Homo sapiens: one gene and its partners. The main gene of each other region encodes a partner of the protein of the gene in region 2 in a complex. Each region holds a gene or a part of one and is shown on either strand. Other genes may lie near its edges. The genes, in order: BUD13, EFTUD2, DHX16 and CWC22.

The links.
Region 1: EFTUD2 (region 2) and BUD13 share a complex: the UniProt entries of both Homo sapiens proteins name them as parts of the minor spliceosome.
Region 3: EFTUD2 (region 2) and DHX16 share a complex: the UniProt entries of both Homo sapiens proteins name them as parts of the minor spliceosome.
Region 4: EFTUD2 (region 2) and CWC22 share a complex: the UniProt entries of both Homo sapiens proteins name them as parts of the minor spliceosome.

Annotation. Positions count from the first base shown.
Region 1 is NC_000011.10:116,755,954-116,762,987, forward strand, and holds part of BUD13 (BUD13 homolog), read right to left. Parts: coding exon 6,600-7,034; intron 5,000-6,599; coding exon 4,782-4,999; intron 3,227-4,781; coding exon 3,121-3,226; intron 2,455-3,120; coding exon 2,316-2,454; intron 1,998-2,315; coding exon 1,813-1,997; intron 1,275-1,812; coding exon 1,193-1,274; intron 1-1,192. UniProt on the Homo sapiens protein: Involved in pre-mRNA splicing as component of the activated spliceosome. As a component of the minor spliceosome, involved in the splicing of U12-type introns in pre-mRNAs.
Region 2 is NC_000017.11:44,896,444-44,903,485, forward strand, and holds the start of EFTUD2 (116 kDa U5 small nuclear ribonucleoprotein component), read right to left. Parts: upstream 3,003-7,042; 5' UTR 2,926-3,002; exon of another isoform or gene 2,532-2,925; intron 1-2,531. Other genes in the region: DNAAF19 (dynein axonemal assembly factor 19), read left to right, coding at 4,556-4,698, 5,077-5,209, 5,922-6,374. UniProt on the Homo sapiens protein: Required for pre-mRNA splicing as component of the spliceosome, including pre-catalytic, catalytic and post-catalytic spliceosomal complexes. Component of the U5 snRNP and the U4/U6-U5 tri-snRNP complex, a building block of the spliceosome.
Region 3 is NC_000006.12:30,662,995-30,670,028, reverse strand, and holds part of DHX16 (pre-mRNA-splicing factor ATP-dependent RNA helicase DHX16), read left to right. Parts: intron 1-2,701; exon of another isoform or gene 2,702-2,844; intron 2,845-3,215; exon of another isoform or gene 3,216-4,134; intron 4,135-4,295; coding exon 4,296-4,550; intron 4,551-4,754; coding exon 4,755-4,958; intron 4,959-5,036; coding exon 5,037-5,228; intron 5,229-7,007; coding exon 7,008-7,034. UniProt on the Homo sapiens protein: Required for pre-mRNA splicing as a component of the spliceosome. Contributes to pre-mRNA splicing after spliceosome formation and prior to the first transesterification reaction.
Region 4 is NC_000002.12:179,944,376-179,948,331, forward strand, and holds the end of CWC22 (pre-mRNA-splicing factor CWC22 homolog), read right to left. Parts: intron 1,341-3,956; coding exon 754-1,340; 3' UTR 501-753; downstream 1-500. UniProt on the Homo sapiens protein: Required for pre-mRNA splicing as component of the spliceosome. As a component of the minor spliceosome, involved in the splicing of U12-type introns in pre-mRNAs. Promotes exon-junction complex (EJC) assembly.

The DNA of each region.
Region 1 (7,034 bases), on a different chromosome or scaffold from region 2:
ATCCCAGCACTTTGGGAAATCGAGGCAGACAATCATATGAGCCCAAGAATTCAAGACCAGCCTGGTCAATGTGGCAAAACCTCGTCTCTACTAAAAATGCAAAAATTAGCTGGATATGGTGACACATGCCTGTAATCCCAGCTACTCAGGCCACTGAAGCATGAGAATTGCTTGAACCCGGGAAGTGGAGATTGCACCACTGCACTCCAGCCTGAGCAACAGAGCAAGACTCTGCCTCAAAAAAAAATAAGAGTGGTTGGGCATGGTGGCTCACCTGTAATCCTGTAATCCTGTAAGCCTGTAATACCAGCACTTTGGGAGGCTGAAGTGGGCGGGTCACCTGAGGTCAGGAGTTTGAGACCAGCCTGGCAACATGGTGAAACTCCGTCTCTATTAAAGATACAAAAAATTAGCTGGGTGTGGCAGCGGGCGCCGGTAATCCCAGCTACTCGGGAGGCTAGGGCAGGAGAATCGCTTGAACCCAGGAGGCAGAGGTTGCAGTGAGCCGAGACTGCGCCACTGCACTCCAGCCTGGGCGACAGGGCGAGGCTCCATCTCAAAAAAAAAAAGACTGTAAAAGGGTCCTGAGATTAAAAAGTTTAAGAATTATTGTGCTAGATACTAAAACAATGTCCTTTAGTAGGCAAGAGGAGATGGGATCTAATATGTGAGTATACAAACTGACTTTGGATGGAAGCAAATATTCATCCATCATAACAGGAAGTTAGAGTACGTGGGTACAGATGTTGGTAGGTAGACAGATGAGGTGGGGTAGAGGACTGGAAGACATTAAAAGTGACTGCCTCCTAAAACCATAAAGTGAATAAAGATTCAGAGGCTACATTTTAAAGATATATCAGGTAGAAGGCTCCAGACTACAACTCATCACTCAACCCCTCTAAACCTTACAAAATATCATTAAAAGTAACCAATGTCCAAAACAAAGGGTGTCTTATCTGAACCACCTGAGGTGTTTGTCCAGAGCTTTAAAAAGTATTATGAAAAGGAAACAGAAGGAGGAGTGTTCCAAGCATGAGAAATAGGATTTGTGGACCTCAGAAAAAGAAGCAAGCAAAGTGCATATTTTTCACCTTGTGATTAAAGCAGAGAATGAAATAAAGTGTGGAGCAACTTACGAGTGGTTAGGGAAGGTTACAGTCAGGTAGAAAATGTAAGAAATACCCAGGCTTACCTGTCCACTCCGTCCCAGCGATATCCAGGCCAGATATTAAATCTGTTGGGAGGAGGTGCTGGACCACTGTAGCGAGGTCTCACTAATGAGAGGAGTAAGAAAAAAGTATTCAGTTAATGACATAGTTTAATTCAGAGCTGGATGGCAATGTGGAATTTTCCTTTTTTTTTAGTAGAGTCTCACTCTGTTGCCCAGGCTGGAGTACAGTGGCACGATCTCAGCTCACTGCAACCTCTGCCTCCTGGGTTCAAGCAATTCTCGTGCCTTAGCCTCCCAACTAGCCGGGATTACAGGCGTGCACCACCATGACCGGCTATTTTTTTTTTTTTTTTGTATTTTTAGTAGAGATGGGGTTTCACCATGTTGGCCAGGCTGGTCTCGAACTCTAAGGTGATCCACCCACCTCGGCCTCCCGAAGTGCTAGGATTACAAACATGAGCCACTGCGCCTGGCCTGGAAAAATTTTTATATAGAAAGACCAATTGAGTTGAATCTAAACTCACAAATACAATGAATTTAAATTATTTGGGAAATCCTTCTTTGCATATAGCTATGTATCAGCATCCTAATGATTCTCTCTTCACAAGTCACCTCCAGCTGATGATTCCCAGAAGTCCCACCTTTTTTATTCTTGTTCTCCTTGGCCTTATTCTTCTTGATGAAGTTGGCCATAGGGTCCCCCTCTCTTTCCTGTTCTCTTAGCATCCTATCCAGATCTTCGTCATCAATATAGCGGGCCAGAGGCTTTTGCATCTCTTTCATTGCATCCTCCACATTTTGTTGCTGTTGCCGGCTCTGGGCAAGCCTGGGCAAAAAGGAACCAAGAGTGTTTGCTATCCTGTATGACATTTCCACTTCTACACGAGATGGACCATACTGCTAAGTTTGGACAATCTCCTCTTTCTAGTACCCTAGGGCAAATACTGAGCAGGGTAAAATTCCCAGAATACCCACTAGAAGCGTGGAATATATCAATATCCTAGGAAGAAGATTCAGCACACCAAATTTCCCATTACTGATAACAGCTCTGAAGGCATAATAAGAAAGTGAGTGATCAGAAGAGCAGAGAAATGACTTGTTCCAGTCACTGCCATCTTGTTTACCCTTTCAGTGGTTCCCTTACCCTTTTCCCCACTGGGCATACAGCTCATCTCTCTCTGAGTCCTTTTCTGCTTTCCTCCTTTGCTCTAAACGTTCGAGTTTCAAATTCCTCTTACGACCAGACTTATCTCGAAATACGGTTTCAGCATATTGAAATTCAGCTGCAAAGGAAAATTATACTCAAATATCAGGATCAAAATCAGAAATAACATTCTAAGAGATCAAATCAACCGCTTGGGATTCTAATGCTAGATAAGAACTTCTGCAGCCAGACCAAAGTAGTTCCTACCAACATCTTGGTGCATATTGGCACTGGGCCCAAGAAATGGCATTTTCCTTTTTTTTTTTTTTTTTTTTTTGAGATGGAGTCTCACTCTGTTGCCCAGGTTGGAGTGCAGTGGCGCGATCTTGGCTCACTGCAACCTCCACCTCCCAGGTTCAAGCGATTCTCCTGTCTCAGCCTCCTGAGTAGCTGGGATTACAGGCATGCAACACCATGCCTGGCTAGTTTTTTTTTGTATTTTTGGTAGAGACAGGGTTTCATCATGTTAGCCAGGCTGGTCTTGAACTACAGACCTCAGCTGATCCACCCGCCTCGGCCTACCAAAGTGCTGGGATTACAAGCATGAGCCACCGCGCCTGGGCGAAATGGCATTTTTCAAGAAGGAAAGAAGCACTGGGATTCACTGAGAAATTACAACAATGCATAAAACCAGAGCTGAAATTTGATAGCAATTAAAAGTTCAAAATATCAGGTACAATAAGCTAAATTAAAAAAAAAAAAACAGTATGAGCCTAAATTGGTCTCTGCACTTTCATATTTTTACCTTCAAATGCCATGGTTTCTTGATCCTGTTCCTTGAGCTCCTGCTGTTCTCGCTGTATGTCAGTTAACACCAACCCAGTTTTAGCCCCAGAATACATGTGTGCAGCCTATGCAACGGAAAAGGGAGCATCCAACATTAATGAGATGATGTGACAGTAGGCTCCATGGGTACACAGTTAGTTGCATTTGTGTCTAATGACCAGCAATAATTAAACCTAAAACTCTAGCTTTATATTCTCAATAATTACCATAGGATTCAAAAACTATAAAAGAAAACCATCATCAAAACCATCAAGTTTAAGAATAAGCAGAAACACTAACAATATATTAAATGGAGGGCTACGCATTTGTATTTCTGACTTTTCAGTATATAAACTGCACACATGAAGACTATCTCAGGTCATCTGATCAGAAACCAGTATAAAGCACTAAGCCTTCCATTAGAGACCCATACTGATAAAATATTCCATTTACAGTACAAACTCAAGCAAACCTAAGATCCTTAAATTGTGGATATATTTCATGGTAATAACAGAAGATCTAACAAATGAAAACTTTTTGCTAATTTCCACTTAGCATCAAGATAGCAAATCAGCCCACGAATGAAGCACACAGTATATCTTGATATCCTTCAGCAACGAAATTGGAATAATATTAAGTTGTCCATGAACTAAATGGATATATAAAATGCCAAGAGGTCCAGCTGAAACAGAGACCTCTTTTTTCCCTAAAAAAGAAGAATCTCACTTCCTGGGTAAAGAACAGGCTGGTCTACCCTGCCAGGACCAGTCTTCTCAGAGTCTTCTACAGACAAGATTTACCTGATAAGTCTGCACTGGGGAGAAAAATGCACATCACAGGCTCTATCATTCTGTTTCTTAACCACTTACAAATAAGATTCCTTTACTACTACCAATGTTCTTTACAATATAATTACTCAAGGTTCATATGGATTTTGGGGTTTTTTGGCTAATTCATCAAGCCTTATCATGAATTTAAAACAAACCATTGACTTCTCAGACAACATGATTTCTAAAAGTGGTTTCATATTTTAAGTGCCTCTCCTTAAGCTCTGGATACAGAGACCTATAGTCCAATTTATACTAGTAAATCACTAACACTAGATGCTTACTTTGTCCCAGACACTGTGCTAAGAGTTTTACTTACACTGGCTTAATTATCATAACAACCTTACACAGTAGGTACTACTATTATCCACAATTTACAGATAAAGAAACTGAGGTTTAGAGATATTAAGCATCTTGCCCAAATCTCACAGACAGTAAGTGGCAGAAGGAGAATTTCTGTATGTGATCCGTTTGACACAATGCTTGTGCTCCAAACTTCACTCTGCAAATTACAGTCCTCGGTTTATTCCTAAGAAAATAGGAAGTTTTTCTAGACCTGTTAAAATGAGATTGTAGAATTAAGAGGCTATAAACGCAGAAGCTACTTGGGAAATCTGGTATCTGTAAGTCCATCTGGGATGGGTTATAGCCAGTTTGCCTTCAGAAGGAAAGACCTCCAAAGGTCCTTTTAACTAAGATTTACTACACTTCTCAGAGCTACATCCTTCTTCTTGGCTTGATTCTCTGGGACATATATAAAGCTGAGAGAGAAGAGTCACACGAAAAGAAGGACATGGCTCCTGAAAATCCTGACCTTCTTTCCAGGAGGCTGACTCCTTCGAGGCGGGGACAGGTCAGAATCAGAAGATTTGGTCCTCTGTCTCCTCCTTGGTGGAGAGAGGTCAGAATCAGAGCTCCGGTGTCTAGGTCTATTCCGTGGAGGTGACAGATCTGAATCAGAATCCTGGTGCCCTGGACTTTGTTTATGCCGTGGAGAAGAAAGGTCTGAATCAGTTGCTTTCTGGCAGTCACCTGGATAGGAGCAAAGAATCTGTGTGACTCTGATGTCCTCTAGGTGAAGAACTTACATGAAATCTCCTATGGCTGGGAGAAGAACCTAGAAATTAAAGAATTCCTTACATTATTATTATTTTTTTTTTTTTGAGACAGTCTCAGGCTGGAGTGCAGTGGCATGATCTCAGCTCACTGCAACCTCCGCCTCCTGGGTTCAAGCAATTATTGTGCCTCAGCCTCCCAAGTAGCTGGAATTACAGGTGTGTGCCACCACGCCCAGCTAATTTTTGTGTTTTTAGTAGAGATGGGGTTTCGCTATGTTGGCCAGGCTGGTCTTGAACTCCTGACCTGAGGTGATCTGCCCACCTCGGCCTCCAAAGTGCTGGGATTATAGGCTTGAGCCACCATGCCTGGCCAAAGAGTTCTTTAATCCCCTTGGAAGAATCTAAAAAGATAACTTACCAAGCTAATGTACAATATTTATTTAGTTTTCCTATGAAGAATTATCATTAACCTAAACATAAGTATGGATGGCACAGGAGAAGAGCAAAGTCAGAAACAACTTTTAAGACCAACAGGTAGAATATGGCATTCTATTCCCAAGTGACCACTGACTGTAACTGGTGTGTAAAATCTCCACACACTCCTCTATGTCAGTAACCCCACCCATGGAAAGACAAAATAACTTGTAGTCAGCTCTCCATAGTGTGGCAAAAGTCAGAAATACCTGGAATATAGTCTGATATCCTTGGACTAAAGGATAACAAAGTACTTTAATTTTAAAATTAAAATAGTTCCTAGGAACAAAAGAGGGAGTAAAAAATTTCACTGCACAGGCCTAAGTTCTAGCGACTGTATAAGCATCACAAGTCACCTCCCAAAGGGCATTCTGCAATATGTATCGACAGTCTTTAAAACGCCCACATCTTCTGACCCAGTACATCAACTTCTCAGCTTTCTAGGAAACTTATATAGAAGTAGTTGAATTTCGAGGAAATCTATCTAGAAGTAGATAAGGAAATAATCCAAAATGGGGACAACAGTTTATGTACAAGGATGTTCATTATAGAATTACAGAAGAAAAAACTTAGAAATAACCAAAAACATTCATTATTAGGAAAATGGTTAAATTTGTAATTAAACACTATTAAAAATTATACTAACATAAAGATGTTTTATGGCCTGAGGAAGACTACGTTAAGAAAGGACAGCAGGCAAGATTGCACATGCAATACAAATGTTCTACACAGCCAGAGCTCAACTATATAAAAAATGCAAACCAAAAAAGACTAAGATGACCCTGGCCACAACACTAACAATAATTGCCTCTGAATGACAGAATTTTGTGTCACATTTTATCTTTATATACTTCTGTACATTCCAAAGCTTCTGCAACAAATAAATTGTACTTTTATATGGGGTGGAGCGAGCACATAAAAAGACATATGAAAACCTTCCTCCCTGCCACCATAATTGTTCAACTCTCCCAAACCCAGCCTCTCACTTTTCAAAACTTTCCCAAAGAAATTCCATTCTTATACCTAATAAATCAACTAAACGGCCAAAAGAAAGCTCCCAGGGATACATACATCCCTCTCATGGACAGTCATATGCTCACCTTTGGAATCAAGCTGCTTCTTGTCTCCAAAATGGGATTTTGCTTGCTTTTTTCGTGGAGGAGAGATGTCAGGGTCATACTCATATTTGCTGTTCTTTGGGAATGACAAATGGGAGGCTCCTGACTCCTTCCAATGTGGAGAAGTCTTGCTAGAGGCTCTTTCTGGGGCTTTACCACTTTTGGTTCTGGGCAGGGAATAAGTGACATTAGGAGCCAAATCAGGGGAGTCATGACGGGCCCTTCTGAGTTGCTGTGTGTCTGAAGAGCCAAGAGTCCTCCTAGATGTGTCAGGGGAGTTGTTATGGACCCTTCTGGGGGAAGAGATATCTGAGGAACCATGACGGGCTCGCCTAGGAGGAGAGGGATCTGGTGAATCATGACGGACTCTCCTAGGAGATGCACCTGAAGAATTATGCTGAGGCCTCCTTGGGGGAG
Region 2 (7,042 bases):
GAGACCATCCTGGCTAACACAGTGAAACCCCGTCTCTACTAAAAATACAAAAAATTAGCCAGGTGTGGTGGCACACACCTGTAGTCCCAGCTACTCAGCAGGCTGAGGCAGGAGAATCACTTGAATCCAGGAGGCAGAGGTTGCAGTGAGCTGAGATCGCACCACTGCACTTCAGCCTGGCTGACAGAGTGAGACTCCGTCTCGAAAAAAATAAACAAAATAAATAAACAAATAGTAGTTACTAATTACCATCACCAACTATAGTTTATAAGCAATAAATAACAGACTAGAGCATCAGGGCTCTGGAGTTGGAAGACTTAGATTCAAATCCCAACTTTGTCACCAACAACTATGTAACTTGAGGTAAGTTACTTCATCTCTTCCAACCTGATTCCTATTCTTCAACTGGAAAATGGAATGAATAATCCTCACTGAATAAATGGTTATGAGGATTAAATAAAACACCCTGTGTAAAGAATTTACCAGAGTCCAGCTGGGTGCAGTGGCTCACGCCTGTAATCCCAGCACTTTGGGAGGCTGAGGTGGGTGGATCACGAGGTCAGGAGATCGAGACCATCCTGGCTAACACGGTGAAACCCTGTCTCTACTAAAAATACAAAAAATTAGCCAAGTGTGGTGGTGGGCGCCCGTAGTCCCAGCTACTGGGGAGGCTGAGGCAGGAGAATGGTGTGAACCCAGGAGGCGGAGCTTGCAGTGAGCGGAGACAGCGCCACTGCACTCCAGCCTGGGTGACAGAGAGAGACTCCGTCTCAAAAAAAAAAAAAAAAAAAAAGAATTTACCAGAGTCCTAGGCTCAATAAACGTTAGCTAGCATTATTTTTTGCCATCCTTGATCATGAGAACCCTGTGTTCCATGCACCTGCTTCTTCTCTTCACTTCTTTTATGATACTAAATTTAATTTTAAAATAATACCAAAAAGTGGCAAGAACAGTACAAATAACTTTCTTTTCCCCAAATATTTGACAGTATGCTGCTGACACAATGCCTCTTCACCTCCTAATACTTTAGAGCAAGAGTTGACAAACTCTGACCTGTGGCCAAATCTGGCCCCTCCAACTGTTTTTGCATGGTCCTCCAGCTAAGAATGCATTTTACATTTTTATTTTTTTATTTTTTTGAGACGGAGTCCCGCTCTGTTGCCTAGGCTGGAGTGCAGTGGCACGATCTCGACTCACTGCAACCTCCGCCTCACAGGTTCAAGCGATTCTCCTGCCTCAACCTCCCAAGTAGCTGGGATTACAGGCACCCGCCATCACACTTGGCTAATTTTTGTATTTTTAGTAGAGACGGGGTTTCAACCATGTTGGCCAGGCAGTCTCGAACTCTTGACCTCAGGTGATTAGCCCACCTCGGCCTCCCAAAGTGCTGAGATTACAGGTGTGAGCCACCGCACCCGGCCACATTTTACATTTTTAAATAATTGAGAAAAAAGTACCAATGCTAACACAGCCAATAGCCAAGACAGCACCTTGCATAAGTAGGAACTGGATAAATGTTAACTGAATGGGATGTTTAATTTTAAGATGCTGATATTTCTTGGATTAGACTGATACCTCCAACTCCCTCAATGCCACCTGCTGGGTGCTGAATGTAGAGAGAGAATTGGAGCTCCAAGGACCAATAATTAAATGTAAATTATTATGGAAACTTTCACATGCATATTCTTTTTACTTCTAAAAAGCTACTATCGCATTTATGCTTATCTCATTCTCCCAAGACCCCAGTCAAGGGATTGAAGAAATTATTTATTTATTTTATATATATTTTTTGAGACAGAGTTTTGCTCTTGTTGCCCAGGCTGGAGTACAACGGCACGATCTCAGTTCACTGCAACCTCCGCCTCCTGGTTTCAAGCGATTCTCCTGCCTCAGCCTCCCGAGTAGTTGGGACTACAGGAGTGCACCACTACGCCTGGCTAATTTTTTTGTATTCTTAGTAGAGATGGGTTTTCACCATGTTGGCCAGGCTGGTCTCGAACTCCTGACCTCAGGTGATCCGCCCGCGTCTTTCTCCCAAAGTGCTGGGATTACAGGCGTGAGCCACCGCGCCCGGCCGATTGAAGAAACTGTTATAGAAAGCTGTTCATGGAACAAGCCAAGCTCATTTCTGCCTCAGGGCCACTGCACTTGCCTTTCTCTTTGTCCAAAACGCTCTCCCCTTTGATATTTTTCACCTTGTTCCTTTATTTCAATCAAGTCTCCACTAAAATGTCATCTTCTCTGTCACTCTAAAAAGTCCCCCATACATACTCTCCAACTTCCCACTTTCACTGTTTTATTGCTATTCACAAATGTTATACATTTATCACTAGCTGACTTGTATCTAGTTGTTTACTGTTCATTTCCCCAACTACAATTGAAGCAAAGACTTTGTTCACTTAGTACTGTGCCTAGCATAGACTAAGCCCTCAATAAGTATTTACTGAACTAATGAATGACTCTAACAAGGTACACAGAATATAGCTGATTTGCCCACAGTTACACAAAACTAGCGACTCATGGTAACAAACCTCACTGCCGCTTCCCGCTACAATGCAGGAGCTCAGAGGACTTCGGAGGGAACTTGGCAAAGAACGGCTGAAAGCGGCACGGATAGAAGAGGAAGTGAGCGAGGGGACTGGACAGTTAGAGCACCACTCCTACCTAGCGATACGATTTTACGGACTGAGGCTATAGAGGCAGCCCCGAAATCGAGGTGTGTGCGTGTGTGCGCGCTTCGGAAGCCTTGGGAAGGCACGAGGACGACAGGGTCTTCCATTCTTTTTCCCGCTCCAGGCCTCAATTTACCGATCCGTAAAGCGAAAGGGGCCAATAGCATATAAGGCCCCTTCCAGATCTGACGCTTTTTAATTTCCTATCCCACCTGGAGCAACCCTTCCGTGCCGCTGACCCGCTTCAACTTACCTCTCGCCTGCTCAGCTAAGAGTTCCCAGGCCGCTGCCGGAGATCGTGCTTCCGCCCCACGCCGAGGAAACGCCTGCGCCCGCCGCCAGGAAGGACCCCGCAGACGCCGCTGTCGCCTTTCTGCCCGGGAGGACAACCCTCTGCCTGAGGACCAGTTCCGAGGTATGCCCGCCGCGGACTGGCAAGGCGGAGTAGCGGGTCCCCAAGACGAGTAGCCCAAGACGTGGGCTGCTCCAAAGAGGGTGAGAGCTGAGGATGAACGAATCTGATCAGGCGCCTCGGGACCACCCTGAAAATGGGGGGAGGGGCCTTCGGGCAGATCACGTGGTCAGGCTGTTAGCGCAGTTGCTAGGCAACCACAGCTGCGGGCGTGGTCTGCGCGGGGTTGCCCTCCTGTTCTGGTTTATCAGGGGATCCCCAAAGAAAGCAAGGGGACCAAGGCCGGGACTGCTGGGGTGAAGGTCCGGGAGGCTGAGTAAGGGGACGGAAGGGTTAGTTCTATGTATTAAATGCCTGGGGAGGGCTGAGAACTGGACACCTGATTTCGGTTACTGGCCACCCCAGCCCCTTCTTGGCGTTCAGATTCCCTACGTTGGGGTAGGGTGGCTATGGGATTGGTTGGGGACTTCCTGCTTCCTTGCGCTAGGGCTGTTGGTGATGACCCCGCCACAAAATCTAGCTCAACTCACTAGGAGTTTGCAGTTCAGAGAGGTCCCACAAGTAAATGCCAGAGCCACGACTAGAACCCACGTAGAGAATCTCTCTGCAGTGGCTCACGCCTGTAATCCCAGCACTTTGGGAGGCCGAGGCGCGCGGATTACTTGAGGTCAGGATCGAAAATTGCTTGAACCCCGGAGGCAGAGGTTGCAATGAGCCAAGATCGCGCCACTGCACTCCAGCCTGGGCAACAGAGCCAGAAAAAAAAAAAAAGAAAAGAATATCTCTGTAGAAATGATCAGTCAGCCTCAGATATGCAGAAACTACAGAAGTACAGTGATAGAACTAAAGGCATTGCCCAGGTACCTAGGGACCTCTGTTCCAGCCCTGGGCTGGACAGAGGGATTTGGGGATGGGGTCATTGAGCTCCTTCCTTTGCCCCTTCTACTTGATTTCCTGCTCAGTCATTGCATCTGGTTTGGGTGAAAGTCTCCTTCCTCATTAAAGACATTCAATGAAGAATGAAACTTTATCCCCGAGCTCAAGGGTAACTAACAAGAGTTCTGCCTTTGTGTGAGGTCCCCTGTCGAAACGACTTGCTGTAGAACAATCCTATGGGGGAAGAGTGAAGAAACTGAATTCTGAGATCCCAATGCCTCCTCGACTGAAGCACCAAAATTAAAAATATTTTTAGAGGCAAAGAGCAAAATTAAGACAGAACTCCAAATTGAAAGTCAGGACTCTGTATTCTATTTTCAGGGACAAGTCTTGTGTAAGTCCTCACTGTGAAATTCAACTTGTCTTTGTAAAATAGAAAACCAGATTTTTGTAACACCTCCCAATCTGAGTGACATGATGTCCAGAGTGCTTTGGGGTCATTTTGTGTTCTGGTGAATAATTCAGAGGTACCCTCTTTCCCCTGATATTGACTGTCCACTGACATGTATTCCCTTTGCCTTCCCAGGCACAGGCCATGGAAAGGAATGACATCATCAACTTCAAGGCTTTGGAGAAAGAGCTGCAGGCTGCACTCACTGCTGATGAGAAGTACAAACGGGAGAATGCTGCCAAGTTACGGGCAGTGGAACAGAGGGTGGCTTCCTATGAGGAGTTCAGGTTGGCTCACTGCCATTTTTCTCAGGCCCTCCTGTTATGGTGGATTATAGTAGTTAACTCTGAAATCAAACCATTCTGGGCTTCAGTCCTGGCCCCACCGTCTACTGTTTGATCTTATGCAATTTCCTTAACTTCTCTGAGTCTCAATTATTTATCTGTAGAACAGTAACTGTTATAATTAAATGAGTTCTTGCACATAAGACTGAGCAAGTGTCTGACACATGTGAGGTGCTTGAAAGCAGTCAGCTATCGCTGTTGTTATTATTATGGTCATATTGGTCCGTAACAGGTTTATCCTATACCATGCAAAGTCTAGCTGCCTCACACCCACAGACACAGCATTAAGTCCATTGCCTAATTTCTGTCCTTTGCCTACAGGGGTATTGTCCTTGCATCACATCTGAAGCCACTGGAGCGGAAGGATAAGATGGGAGGAAAGAGAACTGTGCCCTGGAACTGTCACACTATTCAGGGAAGGACCTTCCAGGATGTGGCCACTGAAATCTCCCCGGTAGGTGAGGCCCTGCCCCTTTAGTCCAGCAGGATTCTCTGCCCTAAAGCTTCAATCCTGTTTTTTCATTTTGTTTTGTTTTGTTTTGTTTTTTTAACCACACATACCTCTTCTTTATTTGTCATGTTAAACCAACAGAGATAGGTTTCTGCCTCCAATCCCAGAAAGAAAAACAAACAGCAGATGGCAAAGCTGAGTTGAAGTGGGCAGAATGAGTCAGAAAGTTGGGCTAGGAAGGTCGGCTTCCCTTAGTCCTTTGACTTTCATTCTCAGATCAGAATTGGGATGCTCTGCCTCTGGGTTGTATGGTGTCTAGTGTAATGATCCTGTGGCAGTGTTGAGAGAGAGACCCCAACATTCAGATCCTTGAGTTCCTTTCTCTCTTCCTGAGATTTCCAATCAACCCATCCACCCGACTTACAGTAAACCCTGACTTACTCTTGAAGACCAGAGCTATGTCTCCATTCATGAGTAGGAAAATTCCAGTATAAATGAGAATCTCAAATCATGGCGTGGATTCCTTGGGGCCCTCCCTGTTTCATCCCCAGTTTCCTCATCTGAAAATGAGGCCGCCAAGGACCACAGCTTTCCCAGTGCTCAGACAGTAGTGAGATGAAGACAGTAAGATGAAGAGCTACAGGCTCCCCTCCCTGTCACTGTTGCAGAACAGCTGGAAGAGCTCCTGACTCCCTTTCCTTCCTTTGTGGTCCAGGAGAAAGCCCCCCTCCAGCCCGAGACGTCTGCTGACTTCTATCGTGATTGGCGACGACACTTGCCAAGTGGGCCAGAGCGCTACCAGGCTCTACTGCAGCTTGGGGGTCCAAGGCTCGGCTGCCTCTTCCAGACAGATGTGGGATTTGGACTTCTTGGGGAGCTGCTGGTGGCACTGGCTGATCACGTGGGGCCGGCTGACCGGGCAGCGGTGCTGGGGATCCTATGCAGCCTGGCGAGCACTGGGCGCTTCACCCTGAACCTAAGCCTGCTGAGCCGGGCAGAGAGAGAGAGCTGCAAGGGCTTGTTTCAGAAGCTGCAAGCCATGGGCAACCCCAGATCCGTGAAGGAGGGGCTCAGCTGGGAGGAGCAGGGTCTGGAGGAGCAGTCTGGTGGGCTCCAGGAGGAGGAGAGGCTCCTGCAGGAGCTGCTGGAGCTGTACCAGGTTGACTGATGCGGCAAGCTACCCTCAGAGGTCCCAGTGGTCACTGGAGGCAGTTTTTTGGTTGTTGTCTTGGGGGTTCTGCAGGACCATAATAAGAAACCCACACCTGGTTCCCTTCTCAACTTGGAATTTTCAGAGCAAAAACAGGAATCAAGTCTTCCCCACTTCTCCAGTCCCTCAGTGTCTCGCTGTTTTGAACTGTGTGTATCCATGGACAGTCAAGAGCTCAGGAAGTTGAGAGCGGTTTTGTTTCCCACCCTTAGAGTCTGCCAAGCCTCTAGCCCACTGGCCTTGAGAGATGAGTGTGTGCCCAACCAAATGCTGGCTATACCAGTTACAGCCTCCACTCATAAAAGGGAAAAAGCAAAATCTTTATGGTAAACAAACACTGATCTCCACAGCTCTTAACAAGAATGTTTATAGCCCCAAACCAATGAATGGACATGTAATCAACAAATGATCAAATACTACATCATTTGAGGTGTTGAATTTTCCCCTAGAGACTCAGTTCTTGTGCAGGTTGGGCCTGGGAAAGTCCCAAGCCATCAGCTCAGGTCCAGCCAGCCTCCCGGATGGCCAGATATGCAGGAGGGTGGGTTTCCTTCATCCCCCAGGTTGATGAAAGACTTTTCCACCAGGCTGGCAGGGCAGGGCCTGGAGCACTGAGGCAGAGATCT
Region 3 (7,034 bases), on a different chromosome or scaffold from region 2:
GGGATGTGCTGACCATTCAGCTTAGGCACACCATCTCCAAATACCTTCCCACCACCTAATTCCTGCACCCCTTATGTGGCTTTGTGATCTCCCTGTGTCTTCTCACTGGACAGGGACAGAGCCCTTGTAATTCATAAACTGGACTTTTTATGGTGTGAAACTAGGTAGGGTAAGCTGTTTTCCAAAGGCCTGGTCTTGTCAAGTAAAGTCACACTTAGATTCCCCAATACCCCAATAGAATTTTGAGACTCTTGAAGTTCCTTTTTTTTTTTTTTTTTTTTTTTAAACCTTTTTTCTTTTTTTTGAAACGGGGTCTTGCCCTGTCACCGAGGCTGGAGTGCAATGATGCGATCTCGGCTCACTGCAACCTCCGCCTCCTGAGTAGCTGGGATTACAGGCGCACACCACCACGCCTGGCTAATTTTTTGTACCTTTAGTAGAGACGGGGTTTCACCATGTTGGCCAGGGTGGTCTCGAACCCCTGACCTTGTGATCCACCTGCTTTGGCCTCCCAGAGAGCTGGAATTACAGGCGTGAGCCACCATGCCCAGCCTTCTTTTTATTTGTTTTGTTTTATTTTTTATTTTTATTTATTTATTTTTGAGATGGAGTCTCACTCTGTTGCCAGGCTGGAGTGTGGTGGTGCGATCTCAGCTCACTACAACCTGTGCCTCCCTGGTGGAGGAATCAAGCGATTCTCCTGCCTCAGCCTCCTGAGTAGCTGGGACTACAGGCCTGCAGTACCACACTCGGCTAATTTTTTGTATTTTTAGTAGAGGAGATTTCATCATGTTGGCCAGGATGGTCTTGATCTCTTGACCTTGTGATCTGCCCGCCTTGGCCTCCCAAAGTGTTGGGATTATAGGCATGAGCCACTACGCCTGGCCGTTTTTACTTTTTAAAATTCATTTATTTATTTTTTTGAAACAGAGTTTTGCACTTGTTGCTCAGGCTGAAGTGCAGTGGCGTGATCTTGGCTCACTGCAACTTCCACCTCCCGAGTTCAAGCGATTCTCCTGCCTCAGCCTCCAGAGTAGCTGGGATTACAGGCATGAGCCACCTCGCCTGGCTAATTTTGTATTTTTAGTAGAGATGGGGTTTCTCCATGTTGGTCAGGCTGGTCTTGAACTCCTGACCTCAGGTGATCCACCTGCCTCGGCCTCCCAAAGTGCTGGGATTATAGGCGTGAGTCACCACGTGCCCGGCCAACTTTTGGAGTTCTAAGAATGGCCTACTGGTTCCCAGGTCTCTCCTGACCAATTTATCTCATATCTCTTCCTGAAATTGACTGTGGTTAGGCTTCTGGGACATCTCAGTGCAGTTGTGGTGGTAGTGGTGTTACTGTTTTGGCCTGAATTTAATTTTTCGGGTTTTTTTTGAGACAGAATCTCATTCTGTCGCCCAGGCTGGAGTGCAGTGGCATGATCTCGGCTCACTGCAACCTCCGCCTCCCGGGTTCAAGTGATTCTCCTGCCTCAACCTCCCGAGCAGCTGGGACTACAGACATGCACTAGCATGCCTGGCTGATTTTTGTATGTTTAGTAGAGATAGGGTTTCACCATGTTGGCCAGTCTGATCTCAAACTCCTGACCTTTGGCGATCCACCCCCCTCGGTCTCCCAAAATGTTAAGATTACAGGCGTGAGCCACTGTGCCCAGCTGTAATTTTTCTTTTTCGATTACAAAAATATTTAAGCACATAGGGAAGTTGAAAGAATAGAACAAAGAACACTCATAGACACTATTCAGATTGAAAAATGGTTAATACTATGGGTAGTATTTGCATTGTAATTGTAAATGTGGTATGTTTTTTCTTTTCAGACCATTTAAAAGAGTCTTAGACATCATGGCGTTTTATCTCTAAGTACATCAGTGTGTACCTGCTAAGGATAAAGATATTGTCCTCTAAAATCAGAATGCTCTTGTCACAGTCAGGAAGTTGAACAGTAATTCTTATGTATCGACTAAGATCTCTCTACAATAAAAGATACCCTCATTACCCTCAAAATAACTTTAATGACTGCTTTTTCCTAACAAGAATGCAGTCAAGGTTCATGCATTGCATTTGGGTCTTAGATGTTAAGTTTGTTTCTCTCTCTGTCTGTCTCACCTTGCAGTGTCCTACATTCTGGATTTGCCTGATTCTTATCTTGTGGTGTTAAGTACTTCTCTGCCCTGTGCTTTCTTTGAAGCAGGAATTGGGTCTAAAGCTTATTGACACTCAGATTAAACAGTTGTGGCAGGAACACTTCTTGGGCGGTGATGTGCACTTCATATTATGTCATATCACGGGGACATACTATCCAGTTGTGTATCTATATATTAGTATTAATATCCTTTCTACCAATAGCCTTTCATCAAATGCTTTTAGAAGCCACTGGTAATCCTTTCCTGAACATGTTATTTTTATTGGGGATTGCAAAATGGTGATTTTTTTTTTTTTTTTTTGAGACAGAGTCTCGCTCTGTCGCCCAGGCTGGAGTGCAACGGTGCGATCTCGGCTCACTGCAAGCTCTGCCTTCCGGGTTCATGCCATTCTCCTGCCTCAGCCTCCTGAGCAGCTAGAACTACAGGCGCCTGCTGCCACGCCCGGCTAATTTTTTGTATTTTTAGTAGAGATGGGGTCTCACCATGTTAGCCAGGATGGTCTCGATCTCCTGACTTCGTGATCCTCTTGCCTCAGCCTCCCAAAGTGCTGGGATTACAGGCGTGAGCCACCGCGCCCGGCCGAAATGGTGATTTTTTGATTCTGTCATTCCTGTTACGTGTATTGGCTAGAATTTGTCTATAAAGAAGAGCTTTTCCTCAACAACTAGGAACAAGCTACAGTTCCTTCTTAAAAAGGGTAAATGTTTGTTTCCTTTTAAATACGAATTTTTAGAGTAAGGCGTTTGCTGTAACAGTCATTTCACTGGTGACAGATTTTTTTCCCTTGTTTTTTGTTTGTGTGTGTCAAATTGGACTCATGAATTTTTATTTTTCAGTATTTTATAATCTCACATCATTATTCTTTTTAATGCTCAAATGGCTCTGATTTTTTGCCCATATTAAAAAAAAAATCTATCTGGCTCTTCCATGGAAGGAATATTTGACTGTGGTACCCAGATTAGGTCATGATCATAAACTGCATTTTAAGTCTTTACAGAACAAACAAGAAAAGCCAAACAACTAAATAGAACCAGGCCCCTTAAGGGTAGAACAGCAGAGGGGCTTTTTTTTTAAAGATGCAGTTTTGTTCTTGTTGCTCAGGCTGGAGTGCAATGGCGTGAGCTAAGCTCACTGCAACCTCCGTCTCCCGGGTTCAAATGATTCTCCTGCCTCAGCCTCCCGAGTAGCTGGGATTACAGGTGCCCACTACCATGCCCAGCTAATTTTTGTATTTTCAGTAGAGACGGGATTTCACCATGTTGGCCAGGCTGGTCTCTAACTCCTGACCTTAGGTGATCCACCCACCTCAGCCTTTCAAAGTGCTGGGATTACAGGTGTGAGTCACCACGCCCACCCAGCCACCAGAGGGGCTTTGACCTTGCAGTAGAGGAAGTTGTGATCACAGAGAGGATGATGTCATAGTGGGAGGACTCCTGGCAGGAAAGGGCCTTATAGATATTGCCAGTTTTCTGCTGTCATCCATAATGTGTCCTGAAAAGTTTGTATCAAAGGTAAATGTGTAGAAACTAAGTGAGACACAGCATGGTGAAGAGAGGTTAGTACCAGAAAGCCAAACATCCCTGATTACATTTGCCTTACAGAAACACTCTGATGCTGTAGTCCTAACTTTTTATAATCAGTTTTTCTCCCTTCCTCAAACTACAGTCATTCCGTTTAAGACCAAAGAACATCTAACTGGGGCTGAAGATTGCCTCCTGTTGGCCCCCTCACTGGTTTCTATCTTTGTCTGAATTGTTTTCGGTTTGAGTCCTGTGCTTCTAAATGCTGGATTAGCCTTTTATTTTCCCCCTTTCCACTAATTTGAATAAAATGGCAAGAGTAAAATATAAGCTACGCAGACATCTCCCTAGTGCATCTATATTAACAAAGATGATAATGCTGCCTAAGAGGACTTTCCAGCTGGATTCTGCTGCAGGAAGATACGATGTGGGGTCAGCATGTAGCATCCAAAGAGGCCCAGATTTGAGTATGTCATTGTTTTGGTTGTGCATTGCAGAGGGAAGGTAGAGGGTGCATCCTGAGGTTCTCATGCCTGCCTGTCAGGGGATTTTTCCCTTGTAGGGATTGGTAGAGAAAGGGGTTGCTCCTCCAGCAAGATGAGGATTCGACTGTCCTTTCCCAACTCAGGTCCCTGAGCTGCGGAAGAAATCTCGCCGAGAGTACCTGGCTAAGCGGGAGCGAGAGAAGCTTGAGGACCTGGAGGCGGAGCTGGCTGATGAGGAGTTCCTTTTTGGGGACGTGGAGCTGAGCCGGCACGAGCGGCAGGAGCTCAAATATAAGCGGCGAGTGCGGGATCTCGCCCGGGAGTACCGGGCAGCTGGGGAGCAGGAGAAGCTGGAGGCCACCAATCGCTACCACATGCCCAAGGAAACCCGAGGACAGGTGAGGTGAAGCGGCGTCTGCTTCAGCCTTGGTCCCCAAGACAAGTTGTGGGGAAGGCTTCAGGGGATTGGGCAACACGTGGGTCATCCCCTTTCTTGCCTTGCCGTTCCCAATGGGCAGTGGGCGGGGGTAGTAATGGGAAGAGGGGAGAGGGCAGAGAGGACATCCTGTTTTTGAGTCTTCACATATCCCCTCTCTCTGTAGCCAGCCCGAGCTGTGGATCTAGTGGAGGAGGAATCAGGAGCCCCTGGGGAGGAGCAGCGGCGCTGGGAGGAGGCGCGGCTTGGGGCAGCGTCCCTGAAGTTTGGGGCCCGAGATGCTGCCTCTCAGGAGCCCAAGTATCAACTGGTGCTGGAGGAGGAGGAGACCATTGAGTTTGTCCGGGCCACTCAGCTCCAGGGTGATGAGGTAAGAGGGGAGCTGGGAGACTTTCTGAGGAAGACCCGTAGCGAGCTATTTAGCTCACACCTCCTTCTCTTTCCTTAGGAGCCGTCAGCTCCACCCACTTCAACTCAGGCCCAGCAGAAAGAGTCCATCCAGGCCGTCCGCCGCAGCCTCCCGGTGTTCCCATTTCGAGAGGAGCTCCTGGCTGCTATTGCAAATCACCAAGTCCTCATCATTGAAGGCGAGACAGGCTCAGGGAAGACCACCCAGATCCCGCAGTATCTCTTTGAGGAGGTACAGTCATCTCACCCTTCAGCTTGCCAGGGCACCTGGCATCAATGTCCTCATTCCTGTCAGAGCTCCTTTTACATTATATTTTTAGTAGTCACTTACCTATCTTTTCCACTAAATTGTGAAATTCTTGAGAGTAAAGACCATACCCTTTTCACATTTCTGTTCTCACTTCCTGCATTCATTTCATTTGGAAGGACGGGTAGATGGATAGGTGGAGTGGGGCGTGTATAAATGTGGACCTCCCTATGCTCCAACGTGGCCAAAAAACAAGGAGTTAAAGGACTATTTTCCTGCCTTTTTGTTAGTTTTTTTTTTTTTTTTTTGGAGACGGAGTCTTGCTCTGTCACCCAGGCTGGAGTGCAGTGGTGCGATCTTGGCTTACTGCAACCTCTGACTCCTGGGTTCAAGGAATTCTCCTGCGTCAGCCTTCAGAGTAGCTGGAATTACAGGCATGCGCCACCACACCTGGCTAATTTTTTAGTAGAGATGGGGTTTCACCATGTTGGCCAGGCTGCTCTCGAACTCCTGACCTCAAGTGATCCAGCCACCTCAGCCTCCCAAAGTGCTGGGATTACAGGTGTGAGCCACTGTGCCTAGCCCCTGCCTTATTTTGGAGACAGGCTCTTGCTCTGATGCCCAAGCTGGAGTGATGTGGCACCATCATGACTCACTGCAACCTGGGACTCCTGGGCTCAAGAGATCATCCCACCTCAGCCTCCTGAGTATCTGGGAGGTGCACACCACCATGCCCATATTAAACATTTTTTGTTTTTTTTTGAGGTGGAGTCTTGCTCTGTCACCAGGCTGGAGTGCAGTGGCGCGATCTTGACTCACTGCAACCTCCACCTCCTGGGTTCAAGTGATTCTCCTGCCTCAGCCTCCTAAGTAGCTGGGACTACAGGTGCGTACCACCACACCCAGCTAATTTTTGTATTTTTAGTAGAGATGGGGTTTCACCATGTTGGCCAGGATGGTCTCAATCTCCTGACCTCGTGATCTGCCCACCTCAGCCTCCCAAAGTGCTGGAGTTACAGGTGTTAGCCACTGTGCCTGGCCTGAAATTTTTTTTTTTTTTTTTTTGAGACAGAGTCTTGCTCTGTTGCCCAGGCTGGAGTGCGGTGGCATGATCTTGGCTTACTGCAACCTCTGTCTCCCAGGTTCAAGCGACTCTCCTGCCTCAGCCTCCCAAGTAGCTGGAAATACAGGCATGCACCACCATGCTCGGCTAATTTTTTGTATTTTTAGTAGACGGGGTTTCACCATTTTGGCCAGGCTGGTCTCGAACTCCCAACCTCAGGAGATCCGTCTGCCTCGGCCTCCCAAAGTGCTGGAATTGCAGGTGTGAGCCACTGTGCCTGGTCAAAATTTTGAATTTTTAATTTTTTTGTCACACTATGTTGCCCAGGCTGGTCTCGAACTCCTGAGCTCAAGCCATCCTCCCACCTCAGCCTCCCAAAGTACTAGGATTACAGGCATGAGCCACTGTGCCCAGCCTTCCTGCTTTTTTACCTTAGCTGGCTCTGTCTCAGCTAATCTGTTCTTTTCCAGCTCAAGTCTAGCAGAGTCATGAACTTAATTACCCAGAGCTGGGTGAGGACCCCCTTTGAGGGCCCTAGGTCTGTCATCCTATCTATTTGCCCTTCTTTTCTGGTTTTCAGCATCTGTCTTTTCCTCCTTTTCTCCTGCCTGGTTTTTACAACTTCTTTCTCTGAAATGTACCTGGTCCCAGGGTGCATATTTAGTAAAGGGCAAACTTCTTCTTTTTTCTTTGTCATTCAGGGTTATACAAACAAGGGTATGAAGATT
Region 4 (3,956 bases), on a different chromosome or scaffold from region 2:
GCATATTTCACAACTATATGTTTTCCAATGATCTATTAACCTAAACTAAAAATTAAATACACATTAATTCATCAACAGTGATATAACTTCAAGGCTGAGAAAAATGCACTAATCACAAAGAATTTCAATTAAATGATATCAAGGAGTCCAGAGAGAAGAAATATTTCCTGTGGGAGAAGTTCTAATTATAAATAACTGCGTATTGGTTTAAAGAGTAACATACACCTAGCTTTACCAACACTTGTGAAAAAAATTACACATTACATACTTTGTTCAAAGCCTAATATGAAAATTGTAACAAATCCTCTACTGAAAAAAAAAAAAGTGACTACCTGAAAAAGATTCATAACATCTCATTAACAAAGCAAAACTGTTAAACTGAAAAGGTTCACCTGTTTTGGTCTTCAGTTACAAACAAAAAAGCACTGATAATTCACTATAACAGCTTCTTAAACAACTAAAAAAATATTTTGTCAATTGAAAAAACATCACTGAATCAATGAGCTTTTGATCATTTTATTCACAAAATATAAGCGAGACTTACATCCCTTTCTGGTGAAAGTTTTCAAATAATTTTATGGGTAGGGCCTTGAGATGTATCAATTATAAAACATGTTAAAATGAAAACATTTTTTAAATTTACAAATACAAACCAATACTTTATACAAGAATTCTCTATAAAGTTCGTCAAAGTAAAAAATAATTTGTTTCAACTGAATATAAGGCATGTCCAGTTTATGTCATTTTGTAGAATTATTTTTGTTTTGCTGGAGACTTTTCTCTTCGCCGGTCCTGATTTTTCTTTGATTCTCTGGATTGTTCAGAGTATCTGCTAGATTTTTCCCATCGTCTCTCGGCACCATTTTGATATCTATCTTCATCACTTCTTGAGCCTGAGTGCTTTCTATTCATTTCCTTTGACTTTGATCTATCTTTTCTTCTGAAATTTTCACTGTCTTTAATTCGGTGTGTATGCTTCTCATTTTCAGAAAAAGAATTTCTTCTCTCTCCTCTCTTCTTTTTGGGATCACCATGCTTATTTTCCAAATCTATATGCATTTCTTGGTCTCTGTCATTCGCAACTCTACTGTAGTTATTTCGTTCAGAAGGAACATCTTTGTCTGATGTGTACTTTGTTATAGGATCTCTCCAATTTGAACCACTTGAATTTTGATCTCTGTGTTTTTCTGACCTTCTTTCTCTCTCAGTCCTTGTTTCCTGGTGCCCGTGTTCTTGTCTTCTTTCTTTTTGTTTCCTATCATTTGTTTGCTGGTTTCTGATCAATTTATCTACCTCTTTACTTCTGGTCTTCCCATGTCCCTTCTTTCTTACATCATTAGCTGCGTGTGTAAAATAAAAGACAGTTAGCTTTTATTTCAATCTTAATTTCATAATTATAACAATCACATTTACTGATACAGTGTAGGTTTACTAACTCAGATAAACTAGGTGCAAAGCCAAATTGATTGAATAGAAAGTCTGATGACACAGAGTCTTACCAAATGCTTAATTTTATTTTATTTTTTGAGACAGTTTTGCTCTTGTTGCCCAGGCTGGAGTGCAGTGGCGCAATCTCGGCTCACTGCAACCTCCGCCTCCTGGGTTCAAGTGATTCTCCTGCCTCAGCCTCCCGAATAGATGAGATTACAGGCGTCTGCCACCATGTCTGGCTAATTTTCGTATTTTTAGTAGAGACAGGGTTTCTCCCTGTTGGTCAGGCTGGTCTCGAACTCCTGACCTCAGGTGATCTGCCTGCCTCGGCCTTTTAAGAATATACAATATTTCAGGCCAGGTACAGTGGCTCATGCCTATAATCCCAGCACTTTGGGAAGCAGAGGGGGTGGGGGACAGATTGCTTGCGCCCAGAAGTTGGAGACCAGCCTGGGTAACGTAGCGAAACCCCTTCTCTACAAAAAATTCAAAAAATTAGCCAGCTGTGGTGGCGTCAGCCTGTAGTCACAGCTACTCAGGAGCCTGAGGTGGGAGGATCAATTGAGCCTGGGAGGCAGAGGTTGCAGTACGCCAAGAATGCACCGCTACACCCCAGCCTGGGTAACAAAGTGGGACTCTGTCCAAAAAAAAAAAAAAAGGGGGGGGGGGAAGGGGAGGGGAGGGAGGAAGGGGAATATATAATATCTCAACATTAGTTACCAAAGTACTGTTTTGATCTCGAGATTTAAGACAGTAAACAGAAATTTTATAGCAAATGTAAAAATTTTAGAAAGCGACTCAAATGGTACATTTCTACTTAACAAATTGAATCCAAAAGCTGAAATTCCAGCCCATAGAGTGTTATTCATAGGACTATTAAGTCAGATCAAAATACAATGATCACCCAAACTAGCATTCACTTCCTAAACATAGGAGGAGTAGAACAACTGGGTTTGCTTAACAGCATGAACATATATTTCTCAATGAAAGGTCTCTTCCTGCAAAAACAATAGTTCTCCCCTCTGTTACTATCAGAGAGGCACTAACTGCACCAACAAGAGCAGATATGTTAAGATTTACACTCATGGGCTTTATTAGAGCCACAAAGGCTTAGTTTCTGTAGAAACTCTTCTGAAAAGACCTCAAACAATTTGATTTTGCTGATGTAATCACAACTATAAATACAAAATGGTTATACTGAAATAACCACTTTAAGCAATAAAACAAACTTAATCAGTTTATCTGTTATTTAATTTGGGTGCACAAATCAAAGATGCTAAGATAACAAAAATTTCTCTCAAATTCATACATAGGCAAGAAAGAGAAAATATGATAGAAAAGTGCCTCTTGTCACCCTAATTCTACCTAAATCTCACTGTACCAGCCTCTATTTCTTCCGCTAAATGCATATCTTTGGCACATGGTACAGTCAGTTGGTTTGCCACTAAGGACCTATTTCTCTGGTTCCTATCAAACAGCTCAGCTGAGCTGCAGCTACCCAAGCAGAAACCATCTGGCTCTGTGCTAAACCAGCGTCCCCTTGATCCTACTGTACACCACTGTCGGGCTTTACTGATATTAAAACCCAGCCATGTAACAAGAGGCAATCTCTTCTCCGTTTGCTATGTTTGCATTATAATTTCCTAATTTTGGGGCAGTTCATGCTGCTTTTATGCTATTTAGTATTTTATTAATAAAACAAAGTTCTCTACTGAAATTATATGAGAAGGCAAATTAATTTTGAATCAGCAAGCTTCCTTATTGCAGCAATTCATGCTGTGTTATCATCTGTTCTCAAAATGGATACCATGAAATAACAAATTCTGTAGAATATAAAAATGGTGAATGTTAAATGAACAATGTTTGTACACTTCAATTCATGAATAAAAGTTCCTGTAAGCAAACAATCTTTCTCTGATAATTAAAAAAACAGCCCCACAATTCTGGATGTCACACAGTATGTAAAACACTTTGAAACATAACAAGCTATGGAACAAAGGTGTAAAGATTGGCCTTTCAATTTAAGGCTACAGAGGAAAGTATTGATGCCATATTTGATGAAATATTGCATCCAAACAAAACAAAATGAGAAATGACATGCATGTAGGATAAGCAGACAATCCCTTATTTGGACCAAGATACTGTAATGAAAGAAAGCAGAGCTGACCTTGGGTAAAACAACACAGATCTTTTCAGAAACTGTGAACCAGATCAAACTTTGAAAACATCTTTTACTATAGCATTTCCACTTCCAGGTAGGATAGAGAAGACTGTGGCAAACCTGTGCTCCTGCTGAAAATAACTAGAAATGCCAGATACAATTTTAAAATGTTGCATTGAAAAATGTTGAAAAGCACACAGAAATCAAGTTGAAGGAACTCCTAATTGCCAAAGCTAAGATGATTTGAGCAAAATAAATGACAGTATTGGACTTTAACCCACAGGATAAGATAAATAACCGTGAGTCTATATTGATATTTACAGTTGACTAAATAAATAAATGAGGGAAGAGGGACAATACTTTC